Regions from separate parts of the Homo sapiens genome. Here region 2 is linked to region 1. Evidence: fine-mapped expression QTL. A gene starts in region 1. The other region holds a variant in brackets. All regions are shown on one strand. Distances are from middle to middle.

Evidence for each region. PIP is the estimated chance that this variant, and not a neighbour inherited with it, causes the effect.
Region 2: its variant is fine-mapped to the expression of ST3GAL4 in visceral fat (GTEx, PIP above 0.99).

Annotation. Positions count from the first base shown.
Region 1 is chr11:126,350,150-126,360,309 of GRCh38, forward strand. It overlaps ST3GAL4 (ST3 beta-galactoside alpha-2,3-sialyltransferase 4), which reads left to right and starts at 5,537. Exons shown (of 11, transcript NM_001254757.2): 1 at 5,537-5,693. GSEC (G-quadruplex forming sequence containing lncRNA) reads right to left here and starts at 5,438. Exons shown (of 2, transcript NR_033839.1): 1 at 5,293-5,438. RefSeq lists enhancers at 4,429-5,172, 5,173-5,914, 5,915-6,658, 6,346-6,495, 8,145-8,886 and a silencer at 5,376-5,755.
Region 2 is chr11:126,392,497-126,400,496 of GRCh38, forward strand. The region is part of intron 1 of ST3GAL4 (ST3 beta-galactoside alpha-2,3-sialyltransferase 4); the gene reads left to right. Among named protein-coding and RNA genes, the nearest start is that of ST3GAL4, 41 kb to the left of the region's middle. RefSeq lists an enhancer at 1,232-2,159. The variant A/G (reference allele first, on the strand shown) is at 3,450.

The DNA of each region.
Region 1 (10,160 bases):
AAAAGCTAAACCTGCAGGCTAAAACTTTAAAAAAATATATTTAATTGGCAAATAAAAATAGTATACATTTATGGTGTACAACATGTTTTGTTATATGTATACACTGTGGAATCACTAAATCGGGCTAATTAACATATGCATTATGTCACATATTTATCATTTTGTAATGGTGAGAACATTTAAAATCTCTGTGAGCAATTTTCAAGTATACAGTACATTGCTTTTTTTGTTTTTTTGAAACAGAGTCTCACTGTGTCACCCAGGCTGGAGGGCAGTGGCGCAGTCTCGACTCACTGCAACCTCCACCTCCTGGGTTCAAGCGATTCAGCCTCCCAAGTAGCTGAGATTACAGGCGCACACCACCACACCTGGCTAATTTTGTAGTTTTATAGTAGAGACGGGGTTTCACCATGTTGGACAAGCTGGTCTAGAACTCCTGACCTCAAGTGATCTGTCTGCCTCAGCTTCCCAAAGTGCTGGGATTACAGGCGTAGGCCACCACCCCCCGCCCAGTACATTGTTATTAACTATTGTCACCATGTGGCACAATAGATCTCTGGAACTTCTTCCTCCCATCCAACTGAAAGTTTGCATTCTCTGACCATCTCCCCATTCCAACAGGCAACCACCATTCTACTCTCTGCTTCTGTGAGTTCCACTTTGTTAGGTTCTACACACGAGATCACGCAGCGTTTGTCTTCTTGTGCTCTAGGCTGGATCTTGGTTATCAGCCCAATGACAAGCAGAGTAAAGGCCCGGAAGTTAGGGAGACCAGGGCTCAGTGTGGCTGGCACTGAGAGCTGAGCTTCTAGCGTGGGCCCACACATACATTTAAGACTGTAGCCAATTTTCCTTTCAGAACCACGATGAAGAAATGAAAGCCAAGGCCAAGAAAATCTTTAATGTTCTGTTCCTCCCCTGCTTGGGAAGTAGAGTGGTCTGAAGGCTCCAACACAGAATCTGTGCCATAACCAAGTCTTATCTGGGGCAAGTTACATAACTGCTCATGAAATAGGAGTGATAACAATGCTTCCCCCAGACGGTTTTTCTGAGGGTTAAATAAGAATTTTGTGGGACATAGTAATCACTCAGTAAATGTTCTGGTCTGAGAGTGACCAAAAGGATGGAACTAGAGATATTTGGGCAAGATATTTGCTATGGCCTGAACGTCTGTGTTCCCCTAAAATTCATATGTGGAAATCCTAACACCCAAGGCAATCGTGGGGCCTTTGGGAGGTGATTAGGCCATGAGGGTGGGGGGCCCCCATTAATGGGATTAGTGCCTCATAAAAGAGATCCCAGAGTCACCCCTAGGCCCTTCCTCTCACTGTGAGGTTACAGTGAGAAGATGACCTTGTATGAACCAGGAAGCAGGCTGCTGGCATCTTCATCTTAGACTTTCTAGCCTACAGAACTGTGAGAGATTTCTGTAGTTTATAAGCCATCCAGTCTACATTTTGTATAACAGACCAAACAAATATTAAAAATAACTTCGTGATTAGAAGTGCTACAAAATGCTAGACTACGCATGGAACCAAGAGTTTCTATTTATTTACTTTTTGAGACAGTCTCACTCTGTTGCCAGGCTGGAGTGCAGTGGCTCAATCTCGGCTCACTGCAACCTCCGCCTCCCGGGTTCAAGTGATTCTCCTGCCTCAGCCTCCTGAGTAGCTGGGATTACAGGCACCCACTACCACGCCCAGTTAATTTTTGTGTTTTTAGTAGAGATGGGGTTTCACCATGTTGGCCAGGCTGGTCTCGAAATTCCGACTTCTGGTGATCCACCCACCTCGGCCTCCCAAAGTGCTGAGATTACGGGCATGAGCCAACACTCCTGGCCAACCAAGAGGTTTCAAGGAAAAAAGCCGTAAACTTTTGGTGGTTAACTGACTGTGGTCCTAAACAGAGGCAGGGGCTGTGTGCAATGACTTCTCAGGATCTCTTTCAGCCTACAGGTTCCTGGAATGCATTTCAGCTAACACTACAAGAGTGATGTCCCTTGCTACTGAGAACCCTGGGAACAGCTCAGCTCCATGGTCCAGCCATATAAATCTGATAAAAATAGGAGCTGAAATACCATCCTGGAGTTGCTATTTTTAAAATCATCTGAGATGCTGGATGGGGTATATTTCTTCCTCAAACACATCTTGCTGTTTCCTCCTCTTGGTGGGCAGGATGCTAACGTGGCACATGATACAGGAGCTGTTCCACGCTGCTGCTCACACCCACTCCTGCCAGAGAGGGGCCGCAGGGCCAGGGCTTCCCAGATCTAGATGCACCTGCTCCTCCCTCTGCTCCTGAGGCCCCTCTGGTTGCCCCAGCACAGAGGTGTCCTGCCACTTCCACCAAGCAGAAACACAGGAGAGTTTGGGAGGCAAAGGAAATGGGAATGGAGGCAGCACTGATGGCTTGGAAGGGGACTAAGACCTGTTGTTCCTCTGGTTGCCTTGGTCCCACTTTGGCACAGTTAACATCCAAAAGAAACAGTCCCCATGGGCCAAAGCCCTGCTTATCCCATCCTACTGCCTCTTGCTGAGCCGCTCATCATGTGTTGTAGTTGCACCAAAGGGGGGCCTGGGGCCAAAAAAGCACATGGAGAGGAGAGAGGAGAGAAGAGGAGAAGGAAAGATGGAAAGACAAGAAAAGAGAGAGAGAGAGGAAGGAAGGAAAGAAGGAAGGAAGAAAAAAAAAGAAAGAAAAAGAAAGAAGAGGAGAAGGAAAGATGGAAAGACAAGAAAAGAGAGAGAAAGGAAGGAAGGAAAGAAGGAAGAAAGGAAAGAAAAGAGAAGAGGAGAAGGAAAGATGGAAAGACAAGAAAAGAGAGAGAGAAAGGAACGAAGGAAAGAAGGAAGGAAGAAAGGAAAGAAAGAAAAAGAGAAGAGAAGGAAAGATGGAAAGACAAGAAGAGAGAGAGAGAAAGCAAGGAAGGAAAGAAGGAAGAAAAAGAAAGAAAAAGAGAAGAGGAGAAGGAAAGATGGAAAGACAAGAAAAGAGAGAGAAAGGAAGGAAGGAAAGAAGGAAGGAAGAAAGGAAAGAAAAAGAAAGAAGAGGAGAAAGAAAGATGGAAAGACAAGAAAAAGAGAGAGAAAGGAAGGAAGGAAAGAAGGAAGGAAGAAAGGAAAGAAAGAAAAAGAAAGAAGAGGAGAAGGAAAGATGGAAAGACAAGAAGAGAGAGAAAGGAAGGAAGGAAAGAAGGAAGGAAGAAAAGAAAGAAAGAAAAAGAGAGAAGAGAAGAGGAGAAAGGCACCAGAATTGCTTCCCTCCTGCCCCAAAGATGACATGGCTTCTAGGCAGTGAGCTAAGCTTGTGGCCATGCTGTTAAGAAACTGGAGGGAAAAGATCATCATGAGTAAGCACATTGTGGCCTAACCTGAGGGGAGCAGAATTACGGTTAGCTTCTGGGCACCTAGTAACCAGGCTTGGGATAAGCTGGGGGAGAGGCCTGAATACAGCTTATAGGTTAGAAAAGGCACGCCACCTGCATAGTAACAGCACACACTTATATATAGCAGGTTATGCTTTCAGACCAAATTCGCATCCATTGCCTGATTTAATGCCAACAATAGCCCTTTGAATAAGCAGTTATTTCCTTTCCCCTCCCCCCACCCCAGTAAGAAAACTAAAGCTATTTAGTGGCAGAGACAAGAGTTGGAACTCAGGTCTCCAGGAACAAATGCTGGTTCTTAAGTTCCATTTTCTGGTAGAGTGACATTTACGTGATTCACGGCAAGAACTGCAAACTGTGCTTAGATCTAGTTCATCAAATGGCCAAGTTTAGAGGCTGGGCTGACGCTTGGATCAGTTCTGTCAGATTCACTTAGTTATGAAGGGCAGCTGCTTACTCCCTTTGGGCCAGTCTTCCCATCTGTAGAACAAGGAGGCTCTTCCCTCTTCCTCGACTTGCCCGAGGCAGGGACTTAGTCATTGTGTTCTTTATACCCAGCTTAATTCCAGGCCTGGAGATGGCATGCAATAAATAGTTGTTGAATGGCTCACGCCTGTAATCCCAACACTTTGGGAGGCCGAGGCGGGCGGATCATAAGGTCAAGAGATCGAGACCATCCTGGCCAGCATGGTGAAACCTCGTCTCTACTAAAAATACAAAAATTAGCTGGGCATGGTGGCACGCGCCTGTAGTCCCAGCTACTCGGGAGGCTGAGGCAGGAGAATCACTTGAACCCGGGAGGCAGAGGTTGCAGTGAGCCAAGATCACGCCAGTGCACTCCAGCCTGGCGACAGAGCGAGACTCTGTCTCAAAATAATAAATAAATAAATAAATAAATAAATAAATAAATAGTTGTTGAATGCATGTCTGACTGATTAAGCCAAAGGCACCATATTCAAACAAAATCAGACACTGGTGCAATGCCAAACAGCTTCTGCCCGTGCAAGGAATGATTTAGCATGGAGCACAGTCACCTGCAGAGGAACAACTTGGAGGCAGACTCTCCTTACTCAGCTCACTTGGAGCAGAGCTTCCTGAGTTGGGGGTTCTTGACAGATAAGCCCTCCAGCTTCAGCAGAAGCAGGCTTGGAGCTGCCACTTCTCTGAACCCCCTTGCACTTACTGTCAGTCACTCACACCTTGCACTTATTCACATCCTATCCTGCCTCGTTCTTGAATGGAGTCCATGGTGAGCCTTCTCTGTGCCGCTGGATGGTAAGCTTCCTGGGGACAGGGAATGGGTCTGATAGTTTCCTTGGAGCCCCTGGCGCTCCCGGCACTGGGCTGTTGATACGTGGGGCTCCGGAAACACTGTGCTGACCTGTGAAAGGGACTGGCCTAAGGGGCTGTGGATTGTCCTGTAGGGTGACTTCTGAACTGTTCTTCAGCCTGGGCAGTTCCCAGGTTTATTTGGGGGGATGCCTGGGTCCAAAGAACCAGGGTCAGGGGCCCAGGGGTTTCTTCCTGGAGACAGGATGCCTGGCGCCTTCAATAACGGAAAGGAAACTGAGAAACTTTCTGAGGCCAAGATAAAGAGTATGCAAGTGAGGGGTGCAGAGAGAGCAGTTTAGGGGCAGCAGGCCCCAACCGAAGCAGAGGAAGGGCCCACGTCTGGGCCCAGGGGACTGACTGGCTGCCTTGCGTGCATGGGGCACGGGAAGCATAGGCTCCCGGAACAGGACCCTGCCCCAGTTTCCCCAGTGAGGGAAGGACACCGTTCCCCGTGGGATAGAGCACTGCACCCTTTCTTGATTCTCATTGTTCCCGGGAGCGAGCGCCTTGGCTGCGCTGGGCATACCCACCCTGGCGCCATTCACAGGCAGTGCCTGCCCTGGCCCTGTGCTCACCCCATCAGGCCTCCTCTTCCGCCTCTCTGGCACCCACGGCGCCCCTGCTTGCCTCTGTCCGGGTCTCGGAGGCGCGAACACCATCCCAAGCCTGCGACCGCGCGGCATCACCCCCGCCCTTCCCCCTCCTCCACCCCGCCCTTTCTACCCCTCCCGGGAGCTCCTGGGAGTCGGGCCGCCGTGTGCGCAAGCGTGTCCAGCCCCTTCCCCGCCCCCAACCCGGGCCCGGGTCCCCGCCTCCCCTGCAGGCGGACTCGCCCGCTCCCAGGCCGGACCCGCGCCCGGGACAGGGACCCGGCCGAGTCGAGCCGTCGCGCCAGCGCTGCGCCGCCGGTCGGTGCGCCTAGCGGATCGGAGCTGCGCGCGGAACCGTGCTGCCCCGCCCCGCTCCACCCGTGAGGGTGAGTACGCGGCGGCGGTGCGCGGGGGCCCGCGGGGCGGGGCGGGGCGGGGAGCCGCGGGGTCCTCGGCCGCCTGACCCCAGCCGGCGCCGCGCCTCCCGGAGGGGGTCGGGCCCTGCACGTGGGCGCAGCGCGGGTCGGGGTGGGGCTGCCACAGCCCTGCGGAGCTGCTTTCCGGGGTCCCTTTCCCTGGACCAGATTTTCGCGGGAAGCCGGATCCTCTCCGTTCCCTTGGAGTGAGCAAGCGGGACAGTTCTGCGGAAAGTTTCCGCCCCCAATCCCCCAGCCCTGCGCCCGGACTGAAGCGGCGGCCCCCACCTCCAGCATCCTCGAGCGATGGTTTCTCCCACAACTACCCCGGTCAGGTCCAGCACTTGGGAGCTGACTGTGCTGGAGGTGACAGGCTTTGCGGGGTCCGCCTGTGTGCAGGAGTCGCAAGGTCGCTGAGCAGGACCCAAAGGTGGAGTTGTCAGTGGGAGGCCGGCTGTGCCCAGGGTCCTAGGGCCACGTTATGGGGGTCGTCAGGCCTAGGCCACTGTGCCTCAGGGCTGCATGGGTGGTGAGCAGTGGGAGGGATGCGATGGGGGGAGTGGGCTCAGCTGTCTGCTGTGGGTGTTTCCTCGGGGACCTGGCTGGCAGGGACCTCCCGGCCAGCCCAGAACTGCCAACATGTCTGCCAGCACTGCCCCTCCATTCCCAGTCCTGGGGGGAGGCTCTGTCTGGGCAGCTTGAGGCCTGACCTACTGTGGCTGCTTCCTCTGCTCCCCAGCCTGGGTCCTGAGGGCCTGGCTTAAGGGAACTGCTGCCAGAAGGCTGGGAGTGTAGGCAGTGTTCGGGTGCCCAGCTGTGCCCTGTCTGACCTCATGGCCACCCACAAGCTGGCACCCCCCACAGGCCTCTTGGGGAAGCCTGTACTTTCCACCGCCGGAGGCGGGTACCGCGTGGAAGCCAGGCTCAGGCGGACTCATTCTTTTTGAACTTTGGGAACAGGCCTGGTACAGGCTGAGTTCTCACAAGAGACACACACCCGTGTCACTGTCTCCTGAGCTGTGCCGGACCCGTCCTACAGACTCCACCTCCTCTAGGTCCTGGCCCTGGCATCTGCCAGGGGGATTTTAAATGAGTTGATATATGCTAAGTGCTTTGAAAGGCGCCTGCACGGAGGGAGAGCTGTATAAATATTCACTATTGGTAATATTTCTCCCATGCTGTTACTCTCCAAAGCTGCCCGATAATTCTAGAGTGGGTTCCGGGGACGTGCCCGCTGTTTGGGGCCTAGAAATGAACTCGGGAGGTTGTTTTGCTTGCTGAGAGCTGGTCTGGGAATGCCCCTTGACCGTTCCCTGCCCTGCTCCTGGCCCACTCCCAGACTGCTCCTGTGCCTGGCCCCATTGCGCTGGGTGGGTGATCCTAAGCTGCCCCATGGGCCCTGGGCTCTGTCAAGACATGGGGAGCTTGCCAGGAGTTGGGGCCAGATCCCCCAGACTCCAAGATGGTAACCGAGGTTGTGAGGGTGCACATGGAAGGAAGAGTTAGAAGAGTGAATTGGAAATTGCCAGCTTGGACTTTGGGCAGAGTGGGTGTCTTTAGCTTGGGGATGGGTTGTTGTTCAGAGACAACAGGGCCGCCTTCTCTGTGAGCTGGCGGCCCAGGCTGAGGTGCCTCTGGGCTGCCTTCCCTACGGGAAGCAGTGACTGGCCCTCTGCTTCTCAGGAAGAGAGTGCCGTGCCCCCGCCAGCCTCCCAACCTCGTTAGACTCCTAGAATCCGGTTTTCTGGATAGAACTAAGAATCTGCTCCTTTCTGGACTTTTAATCCTGGAAAGGGCTCCCTTCCCCAGCAGGAGCAGAGAGACCAAACCCCCTTTCTGTGCTCCATCTTGAGCTGTCATTCTGTCCTAACTCCCCACTGGCCACCATCTGCCCTTGCTTTGGGGGCTACCCCAGGTCTGACTTGGGCACGTTCTCTGGGTCTCTCCTCAGAGAGGCTGCTCCTGGGGTTGTCCCAATGGAATTGGGAATTCTTCTCAGAATGGCTCAAAGGTTTGCACCATCTGTTGGAGGGAAGGGATCCCTCTATCTTGGACTAATACAAATGTTTCCGTGCCTGCCAAGTTCCAGACCCTGGGCCGATAGGGAAAGGAGCTGGCTGGGGGGCCTGCAGGGGATGGAGAGGGAGCTTGGGCCCCAAGTGGGGTCTGAAGTCCAAGCCTACAGATTGCCATCAAGGCAGCCGCTAGAGCCTAGCCCAGCTCCTGGCCCCTCGGAGATGGACCTTAGATGCTGGAGAGCGGGGCAGTCCAGCAGTGCAGGGTGGGACACCCCGAGCAAACAGCCCCTGCTTCCTGCCCCCTCAGTTCAGTCGCACTGGGCCGGCTGGACGTTTCCCTGCAACAGGCCCCTGCTGGTGGTTTAGCTCCCGCTCCGTGTTTCCCTCACGCTGGGATCCTCCTTCCTACTCAAGACCCACGACCTTGACCTGAAGCTTTTGGTTGCCGGGAGGAAATGGTGAGTGTAGGCAGATTTGGGTGACTCTTGTTATTAACCCCCTCTTCTTTGTTGCCCCCTTCCCAGAGGCTTCTGTATGAGTGTCCTGAGTGGCCCTGGATGGACTACTGGCTGTCCCTGGCCTCAGAATCACCCCAACCCCTGCCACATTTCGGGGAGGGAGGTGTGTGAATGATGTCCTTTATTCTACAGACTGAGGAAGTGGTCAGTGTAGCTTCACGTGAGAGCAGCAGCGTGCGATGCCCAGGCCCTAGCCAAGTGCTGGTCAGCTTTCTGACTGGAGCCCCTGAGCCCTGCAGGGGCTGAATTCCCCCAAAGGTTGCTTGGGTTGTTGCATTTCGGGGTTAGAGGGTGTGGGTGTCCAGAGCTGTGGGTTTTTAGTGTTGGCTGAGCCCTTTACCTGGGACCTACAGCCTGGCCACAACCCCATCTCTGTTCCCCTGTACCCCACACTGCCCTGTGATAGGATGTGATAAGATGGTAGGATTGCCTATACTGAAGCCCTGGGTGCCACTGCTGGCCCAGCAGGGAGGAGGTTGCTGCTGCTCGGGCTGAAGTGAGGTGTGGGTCTGGCTGGGCCTCCAGTTTCCCACCTGGGCCTTGATTGTGAGGAAGGCCTGGCCTGGCTGCAGAAGCCCAGAAGCACCTGAGTAGGAGAGTTCCTTTGTCCCACCTGCAGCTCATTCAAGCCTGTGCATGGGGGTTGGGGTCCTCAGGATCTTGCTTTCCTGTTTAGGGGAGGCAGCCCCAAAGAGTGCTGGGACCAGTTTGGAGAGTGCTAAGGAATGCTGGTCTGCAGCGACCCTACTTGTGCTCTGCGTCCTCTGCCAACTGCAGCATGGGTGAACATCTGTACATCTGTCCCCATAATGAAAATGGCCTCAGCAAATAACAAAAATATTACCATTTAGCAATCAGGCACTTATTAAAAGCCTGGCCCAATAAACTTAAAAAAAAAAAAAAGATGTGCTAGACACTTTACGTCCCTTCATGTGAGCTTCACACAACCCTGTAATTAAGCCCATTTATAAATGAAGAAATGGAGGATTGAAGGATTAAGTTACTTGGCCAAGGTCATACAGCTCGTAAGCAGCTGAGCTAGGACTCAAATCCAGGCTTGCTTCCAAAACCTTCACTTTTCAGCCCAGTTCTCAACTGCCCCCTGGAGTTTGCTCATTTTGCCCCATGAAGAAACAGATCCCAGCTCAAAGGCGTGAAGGGGTTTGCTCAAGGCCACAGTGTATTAGTGTCAAAGGTGGAACACAAACCCTGACCTCTGAGTGCTCTCCCGAACCCCACATCCCGGCCGGGCCGTACCCTGAGCACACGCTTGTCCGCTTTCTCAGCTGGGCGGGGCGGGGCAGGACAAGGTTCTTCTCCCTCCCTCCTTCCCTCCTTCCCTCCTTCCCTCCTTCCCCGTGGGCCCTCCCAGCCTCCCCAGCCCCCACCTCTGCTGCTTTCCCTTGGCAATTGCTTCCATCTGGCCTGCCTGCAGCTCCTATTCCTTTGGAAATGTGGCTGCCGCCCACATGGCTGCAAGGCAACCACGGCCACACGTGGGGAAGGGGAGGGGCCCTATGGGGTCTAAGCACAGGGAACCCAGCCAAAGTGGCTGCTCCTGGCGTCTGGCATCCTGATTCCTGCCAGGCAGAAGCACCTTGGCTGCCTGGCCCTCCTTGATGCCCGTCCTGGGCTGGCTCAAGGCCAGAGAGGCTCCCAAAGACCCAATTCTCCTTCCAACATGGTGAGCTGTTTTGCCCACAGACAAGCTCCGCACCGGCAGCCCTCCCTGTCTCTTAGAGGTTGCTCAGGTTGGGAGGAGGGATTCCTGGCAGGAGAGAATTAGGGGCCAGCCGGGGTATACCCTGGGTTCCCACTGGGTTCTGATCATTTGGAGGGAAGTCATGCAAGGGACTGACGAGGGCAGAGGCTGAGGGATCCGCGGAGTTCTGGGCAGGCGA
Region 2 (8,000 bases), 41 kb after region 1:
AGCTTCTAGCAAGCCCCTTGTGCCTTAGATGCCCAGGTCTTTTCAGAATAAGCCTGGCTTGTTTTAACTTGATGCAACTTGCTGCTCACAGTCATCTTATTGTTTGCTGATGAATTCAGACCTCCATTCATTTAAATATTTGTCAGTTATCTACCATGTGTCAGGCATTAAATTTAGTGCTGGAGATACTATGGGACATAAGAAGTCCCTGCTTGCTGGGAGTGCGTGGTCTAATTGGTACTTGGGACAGTGTGGTTTAACTGCCACAAAGTTAATAAAGCAGCATGATGTGACAGAGCTGGATGTGGGGGAGTGAGGAAGCTTCTCTGGACTGGGTGGTCTGAACCCCATGCAGGGAGGAAACTGTGGCTGGGAGGAGAGGAGGCCGGAAGAGAGGTCTGGGCTTGGGTCCCAACCACTGATTCCAGATCTCTCAACATTTGTAACACGACCAACTCCTGTTCTTTTTTTTTTTTTTTTTTGAGACAGGCTAGAGTGCAGGGGGACGATCATAGCTTACTGCAGCCTCGATCTCCTGGACTCAGGGGGTCCTCCTGTCTCAGCCTCCCAAGTATCTAGGACTACAGGTGTGTGCCACCACACCCGGCTAATTTTATTTTTATTTTTATAGAGACGGGGCAGAGTCTGCAGTCACATGCCTTGCAAGTAGCAGAGACAGGGTTTAGTCTCGGTAGCCAGTGCCTAGGGCACAGGTCTTGGCCAGAGGAGAGAAGGCTCAGGTGAACCAGTTTCATCTGACCTGCTTGCTAACTCAAACATGGCTGCCCAACTGCGTGGGCTGGCAAGGTATGTGAGGTGGGTAGCTGGGTGGCCCGCCCCTTGCAGGCACTGGGGCAGGATATCAGGGGGTCCAGAAGAGGTTGGGTTTAGGCAGAGTAGAGGTGATTGTGTGGGCCGGGGGAGCAATGTCACCTTGAATGTGTTTCCATACCCAGGGCCCAGATGGCTCAGGAGGAGGGGGATGGGGACGGGGAGAGTGAGGTCTTTTTGACTTTGATGTGCTTTGACTGCACATCAGAGTCAAACGAGTCAGAATAAGCGGGACCCCTCCACAGGCATCTCAGCCCTCCTAATTTAGCCTTTCTGAAGTGGAGCCTTGGGAGCCGATGAAGCTTAATAAACTCTCCTGGTGCTTCCAGTAGGCACTTGAGGGTGGACACCACCGTCTTCAGGTCATAGGAAGTGTGAGCTAGCAGGAATCCTGGAGATTTTCTAGCCCAACAGTGTCCGGTCAAAATAGAATGGGAGCCAGAAATACAAGCCACATGTAATTTTAAATTACTTTTAAAACATTTAAATTTAGCCACGGTTTTAAAAAGTAAAAATAGGTGAAATTCGTTTTAATATTTTAACCCAATATAGCCAAAATCTTGGCATTTCAACATGGGATGAGCATAAAATAATGAAGGTGATATTTTATTCTTTTTTTGGGGTACTAAATCTTTGAAATCCGGTGTGTATTTTCCACTTAAAGCACATGTCAGTGTGGACTGGCCCCATTGCAAATACTCAGTGGCCTGGGACTGGGGTGACCAAGTGGGATGTGGTGGGGCTGGTGCAGTCCACCATTCTCACAGCAGGCATCTGGGGTCAGGGGAGGCAGGGCACTGGCTGTGCTGGAAGCAGGGGATTGGCTGTGCTGGTGGGAAGCCAGATTCCAGCCCCAGACACTGGTACCTTTGGCTTTAGATCCTTGGGGTGGGTGCATTGCTTCTCCTGGGAGGGAGGAGCGCCCGGGAGCCCCTGACCAGGACCTGGGGCAGGTCCACACAGGCCCTGGATTTCTCCTGTATCCTGGGCCTGGCCCTGCTCTCTTGACTCCCACCTCGTCACAGTGGCTTCAGCTTTTTCACCCTGAGAAGGGAATTCAAAGCCTCTGCCCCTCTCAGGCAGGCACCAGGATATGATTTTCTTTTTTCTTTTCTTTTTGTTTGAGACAGGATCTGACTTGGTCTGGAGTGTAGTAGCCTGATCTCAGCTCACTGCAGCCTCCACCTCCCGGGCTCAAGTGATCCTCCCACCTCAGCCTCTGAAGTAATTGGGATTACAAGCACATGCCACCATGCCCGGCTAATTTTTGTATTTTTTATAGAGATGGGGTTTCACCATGATGCCCAGGCTGTTCTTGAACTCCTGAGCTCAAGCAATCTGCCCTCCTCGGCCTCTCAAAGTGCTGGGATTACTGGCATGAGGCACGGGGCCCTGCCCTGGGTATGATTTTCAAGTGGTTGGTGTCTTGTGACTGGCAGCTGATAAACGGGTGATACAATGTTTCTGTACAGGAGTCTGCAGTGCCAGGCTGCAGGGGCGGATGGTGGGGGGTGGGTGGGTAGCCTGTGGAGCCCGAGGGTGGGAACAGAGAGTCTTCTTTTGCTGTAGGTGGAAGCCTGTCTGGCTCCTTTCCCTCTAAGGTCAGACAGCTTGAGAGATGTTTCCATCCTCCCATGCATGACCCTGAGGCAGTTAGCTGGTCAGTTACTCACTGTGCTCTCTGCCAACTCTAATGAGCCAGGAAGCCTCCCCGTGCCCAGGCGTGCTGTGATCACAGTGTTCAATGATGGGGTGAGGCTACAGCGTCCAGCCAGGGGCTGTGCCACAGGGGCCAGAAGATATCTGACCTACTGTCACTGCCTCTTCCACTCTGTTCCACCTGCACTGGGGCAATGCCATCTGATGAACAGATCCATTTATTAATTCAACACGTTTGTATTGAGAGCCTGCTGGGTGCCGGGCACTATTGTCAACATGGGTGATACAGCAGCAAGCAAAACAAGAGAAACATCTTTGCAAGCAGGGGAGGGGGCCTGCAGTGTTGGGTGTGTGGAGTTGTTGCTGGGAAGTAGAGAAGCTGAGTAAAGAGCTGGACGGAGAGAGATAGCCAGGCCCATGTCTACAGAAAAGCATTCTAGACTGAGTGAGCATAAATCGCAAAGGCCCAGAGGAGGGAGCATGCCTAGCTAGCCCCCTAGACCTGGTGAGGCTGGTGTGGGTTGGGCAGTGATACGGTTTGGCTGTGTCCCCACCCAAATCTCATATTGAATTGTAGCTCCCATAATTCCCATGTGTCATGGGAGAGACCTGGTGGGAGATAATTGAATCATGGTGGTGTTCTCCCCCAAGTTGTTCTCCTGGTAGTAAGTGTCAGGTGAGCCGATGGTTTTATGAGGGGTTTCCCTTTTCACGTGGCTGTCCTTCTTTCTTGCCTGCTGCCATGTAAGATATACTTTTTTTCTTCTGCCATGATTGTCAGGCCTCCCCAGCCACGTGGAACTGTGAGTCCATTAAACTTCTTTTTCTTTATTAATTTCCCAGTCTCGTGCATGTCTTTATCAGCAGCACGAAAACAGACTAACGCAGGCAGCCTGTGTTGGGAGGAGTTGGCAAGGAGGGAGGAGGTGCTGGCCAGTAGAGCACATGTGTCTCTGTGC[A/G]TCAGAGCAAGGACCCGGGCTCTCCCCGTGAGTGAGAAGAGTCCATGGGGTTTTGGGGCTGAGGAGGAGTTTTACAGATGACCGGTCTGTTCTTGGCACTTGCAATTAGCGGACCGTCTGTATCCGAGTGTTGATCGGGTGGATTCTAACCCTGTGGGAGAACTCCCCAGCCCGTAGCCTGCGCTCACTGTACCTGGCAGTTGTATTAATGACGTCAAATGCACAGTCCAGCTTGAGTCCCCTCTAGAACGTGGGCAGCGGACACTAAGCCGAGAGGAATCGCTGTGGGTTGGCAGACACTGTGGAGACTGACTCCTGGACAGGCTGTGGAATGTGTGGAAGCAGGTACAGCCCAGGCCCGCGCTGAGGTTCGGCAGGGAAGCCAGAGGAGTCCGCAGCCCGGGAGACCTGGCCTACAGCGGAGAGAGTCAGTCCATGCCAGTGGTGGGATGTGGCTGCAAAAAATGGTCGGATTCATGGAAGTCTGGTGTCCAGCTGGCAGGCATTAGTGGTCCCATGAATACAGCTGTGTGCCTTGAACACGTACTGCAGAGCTTCCAGAGAGCACCAGGGCTGTGGGGGCTAGAGACTGTGTCTCGTGCGGAAGCGTGGCTGAGAAGGGGCTCGACAGGCTCTTCGTCACTGTGCGGAGCCTTCGAAGGACTTGGATGTGCTTGAGACCCCTTCCCCTAATTGCTGTGTAGGGCAGGGGTGGACATCCCGGGGATCGTGGAGTCTAGGGAGCCAGTCTGCACGGGATGGTTTTAGAAGCCGTAGGATGTGGAGGTTCTGGCTGAAGGAGCCAGAATTCCAGTGCCAGCTCCACTCCTCACGAGCTGTACAACCTGGGCCGGTTACTGACCCCTTTCCCACCTTAGTTCCCTGGCTCTACAATGGAGGTAATTATCGTGTTGAACTCACAGGGTCGAGATCATATTTAACACTTTCACAGCCCTTAGAAGTGTCTAGCACAGTGGTCCTCAGCATTTGGAAATGTCTGGAAACACTTTGTCACACCTGAGAAGAGGGATTTCCTACTGGTGTCTAGTAGGTAGAGGCCAGAGATGGCTGCTAAACACCCCATAATACACAAGACAGACCCCGCAACAGTGAACTCTCTGGCCCCTCCAAGTCAGTGGTGCAGAGATTGAGAGATCCTGGTTTCGCGTTTTGAGCGTGCAGTACATTTCAGTTGTTAGTGGAACATGCAATACATCTTTATTCACATGTTATTACTTATTTGTCAGATGTTTGTAAAACATCTGCTACATTCTTGGCAGTTTAATAGAATCTGGAGATACAAAGAAGTTCCTGACCACAGAGGTCATTTAGGCAAGCTAGGAAAGCACAGAATGATATAACACAAAGTTACATTGTACCATAAAGCATATTCTATAGTACACTTAACTCTGGTGGGCTCTTGGTATAAAAATGTCTCCAATCTCAGAGGTCATGGGATAGTGGGCAAGACATGAAAACCTTGTATAATATAAAATTTTGTTACCTCTAAGTGCTGAAATTAAGGTATAAACAACGTCTCATGGGAACCAAAACATCAGTCATTTGGAAGTATAAGTCAAGCCTTCGTAGGAGAGGAACCATTTCAGCCCGATATTACCAGAGTGGGATGGTCCCAGCGAGCGGGATGTGGAGGGTTAGGATGTTATCTTAGTCTGTTTTGTGCTGCCATTACCACCAAGTAGGTAATTTATAAGGAGCAGAAGTTTATTTGGCTCACAGTTCTGGAGGCTCGGATGTCCAAGATCTAGAGGACACATCCGGTGAGGGTCTTCTTGCTGCATTGTCTCATGGTGGATGGAAGAAGGGCAAGGTGGAGAGAGAGAGCAGGAAGGGGCCTAATTGTCCTTTTATAAGGAACCCACTCCTGTAATAATGGCATTAAACCCATTCATGAGAACAGAGCCCTTGACCCATTCATGAGAACAGAGCCCTCATGGCCTACTCTTATGAGACCCCACCTCACAACATTGTTAACATTTAGGATCAAGTTTCTAGCACATGAACTTTGAGGGACACATTCAAACCATAGCATTCTGCCCCAGTCCCCAAAATGGATGTCCTTGTCACATGTAGAATACATTTGCTTCTTACCTATAATCCCAAATTCTTATTTGTTTCAGCACCACATTAAAAGTCCAAAGTCCACAGTCTCATCTAAGTCAGCTGTGGGTAAAACTCAAGGTATGGTTCATCCTGAATCAAATTCCCCTCCAGTCATGGGCTGTGAAATCAAGCAAGTTGTCTGCTTCCAAAGTACAGTGATGGGACAGGCATAGGACAGATATTCCATTCCAAAAGGGAGAGATAGGCAAGAAGAAAGGGGCAACTGGTCCAGACAACTCCAGAACCCAGCAGGGGGAACAATACCAAATCCCAACTTGACAATAATCTTCTTTGACTCCATGTCCTGCCTTCCAGACACACTCGGGTAGGGACTTGGGCCCCCAAGGCCTCCGGCAGCCCTGCTTCCCTGGCCTTGCTGGGCTCATTCCATGCAGCAGCTCTCACCGGTTGGAGTCTCATGCTTGCAGCTCCCCCAGGTTGCTGTTGCACACTGGTAGCTCTGCAGTTCTGGGGTGTCAGGATGGCCTTACTCCCACAGCTCCACTAGGCTTCCTGGGGACTCTCAGCAGCTCAGACTCCACAGTTCTGCTGGGCATTGCCCTACAGGGGCTCCCTGGTGGTGGCTCTGACCCTGCAACCAGTCTCTGCCTGGGTCCCGAGTCTGTCCGCAATATCCTTTGAAATCTAGTTGGAGGGAGCCAGGCCCATAGCCCCTGCATTCTGTACTCTGGTGGCATTAGGACCATGTGGGATGCCACCAAGACTCACCACTTGCACCTTCTAGAATGGTAGGTCAAGCTGCACCTGGGCCCATTTAAGCCATGGCTGGGGAGGCAGAGGAGCACTGTGCCCAAATGTGGGAGCAGAGACTTGAGGTGGCCCTGGACAGTGAGCCACAGGTCCTGAGGGCTCCCAAGACCTGGCTTTTGACATAGTTCCTTCCCTCAGATTTTGGCACTGCCGGAGCTGTGATCACAGGTCATCTCTGCAGTACCTTTGGGATCATTCTTATTTTCTTGATGAATAGCCTCTGGCTTCATTCTTATTGTACTAATCTCCTTATCAAACTGTGGCTCTGGCCAATACTAATCTCCTTATCAAGTGGTCCATACTAATATTCTTATTAAACTATCAAACGGTAACATGCCTGCACCCTTGCTTTCCTCTCCTGAAAGTTCTTTCATTCTCTACTACAGGGCCGGTCTCAGAATCCTTCCAGTCTCTAAGTTCTGTTTCGCTTTTCATTATAAATTTCTTTCTTTCTTTCCTTCTTTTTTTTTTTTTTTTTTTTTGAGATGGAGTCTCACTCTGTTGCCCAGGCTGGAGTTCAGTGGCACGATCTCAGTTTACTGCAACTTCTGTCTCCTGGGTTCAAACCATTCTCCTGCCTTAGCCTCCCTAATAGCTGGGATTTCAGGTGTGTGCCACCACACCCAGCTAATTTTTTTGTATTTTTAGTAGAGATGGGGTTTCATCATGTCAGCCAGGCTGGTCTCGAACTCCTGACCTCAAATGATCCGCCCGCCTCAGCCTCCCAAAGTGCTAGGATTACAGACGTGAGCTACTGCGCCCAACCCTGCTTTTATTTATAAGTTTCATCTTTAAATTATTTATTTCTTCTCAAGTTTTACAGTATACAGTTAAAATAAGTCATACAGCAACCAAAATGCTTTGCTGCTTAGGTATTTCTTCCACCAAATAGCCTAGTTTATCACTCTTAAGTTCTGCCTGCTATACAGTTTGAGGACCTGGACACAATGTAGCCACATTCTTTGCTGCTTTGTAACAAGGATGACTGTTATGCCAGTTTCCAGTACCTTAATCTTCAGATATATCTGAGACCTCATCAGAATGGCCTTCACGATCGATATTTCTACCACCATTCTGATCACAACCACTTAGTCTAAGAAGTTTCAGACTTTCCCTACAGATCTTCTAATCCCGCTTTATTGCCTGCCTGCCTCCCTCCCTCCCTTCCTTCTTTCCTCTCTGCTCTCTCTCTCTTTTCTTCCTTTCCCTCCCCTCCCCTGCTTTCCTCTCCCCTCTCCACTTCTTGGCACCAATTTTCTGTCTTAGTCCATTTTGTGCTGCTGTAACAGAATACCACAGATTGAGTATATTATAATGAATAGAATTTTATTTGGCTCATGGTTCTGGAGGCTGGGAAGTCCAAGATCAAGGGGCTGCTCTGGCAAGGGCCTTCTTGCTGCATCATCCCATGGTGGAGAGTGGAATGGCAAGACAGATCAAGAGGGGACCTAACTGGCCTTTTATAAGGAACCCAGTTCCACAGTAATGGCATTAACCCATCCATGAGAGCAGAGCCCCATGATCTAAACACCTTTTATTAGGCCCTGCTTATACTGTTGCACTGGGGATCAAGTTGCAGCACTTGGACTTCGGGCAACACATTCAAACCATAGCAGGCACCTTAATAAAGGTGGAAAAGGGATGTGGCAGCTACAG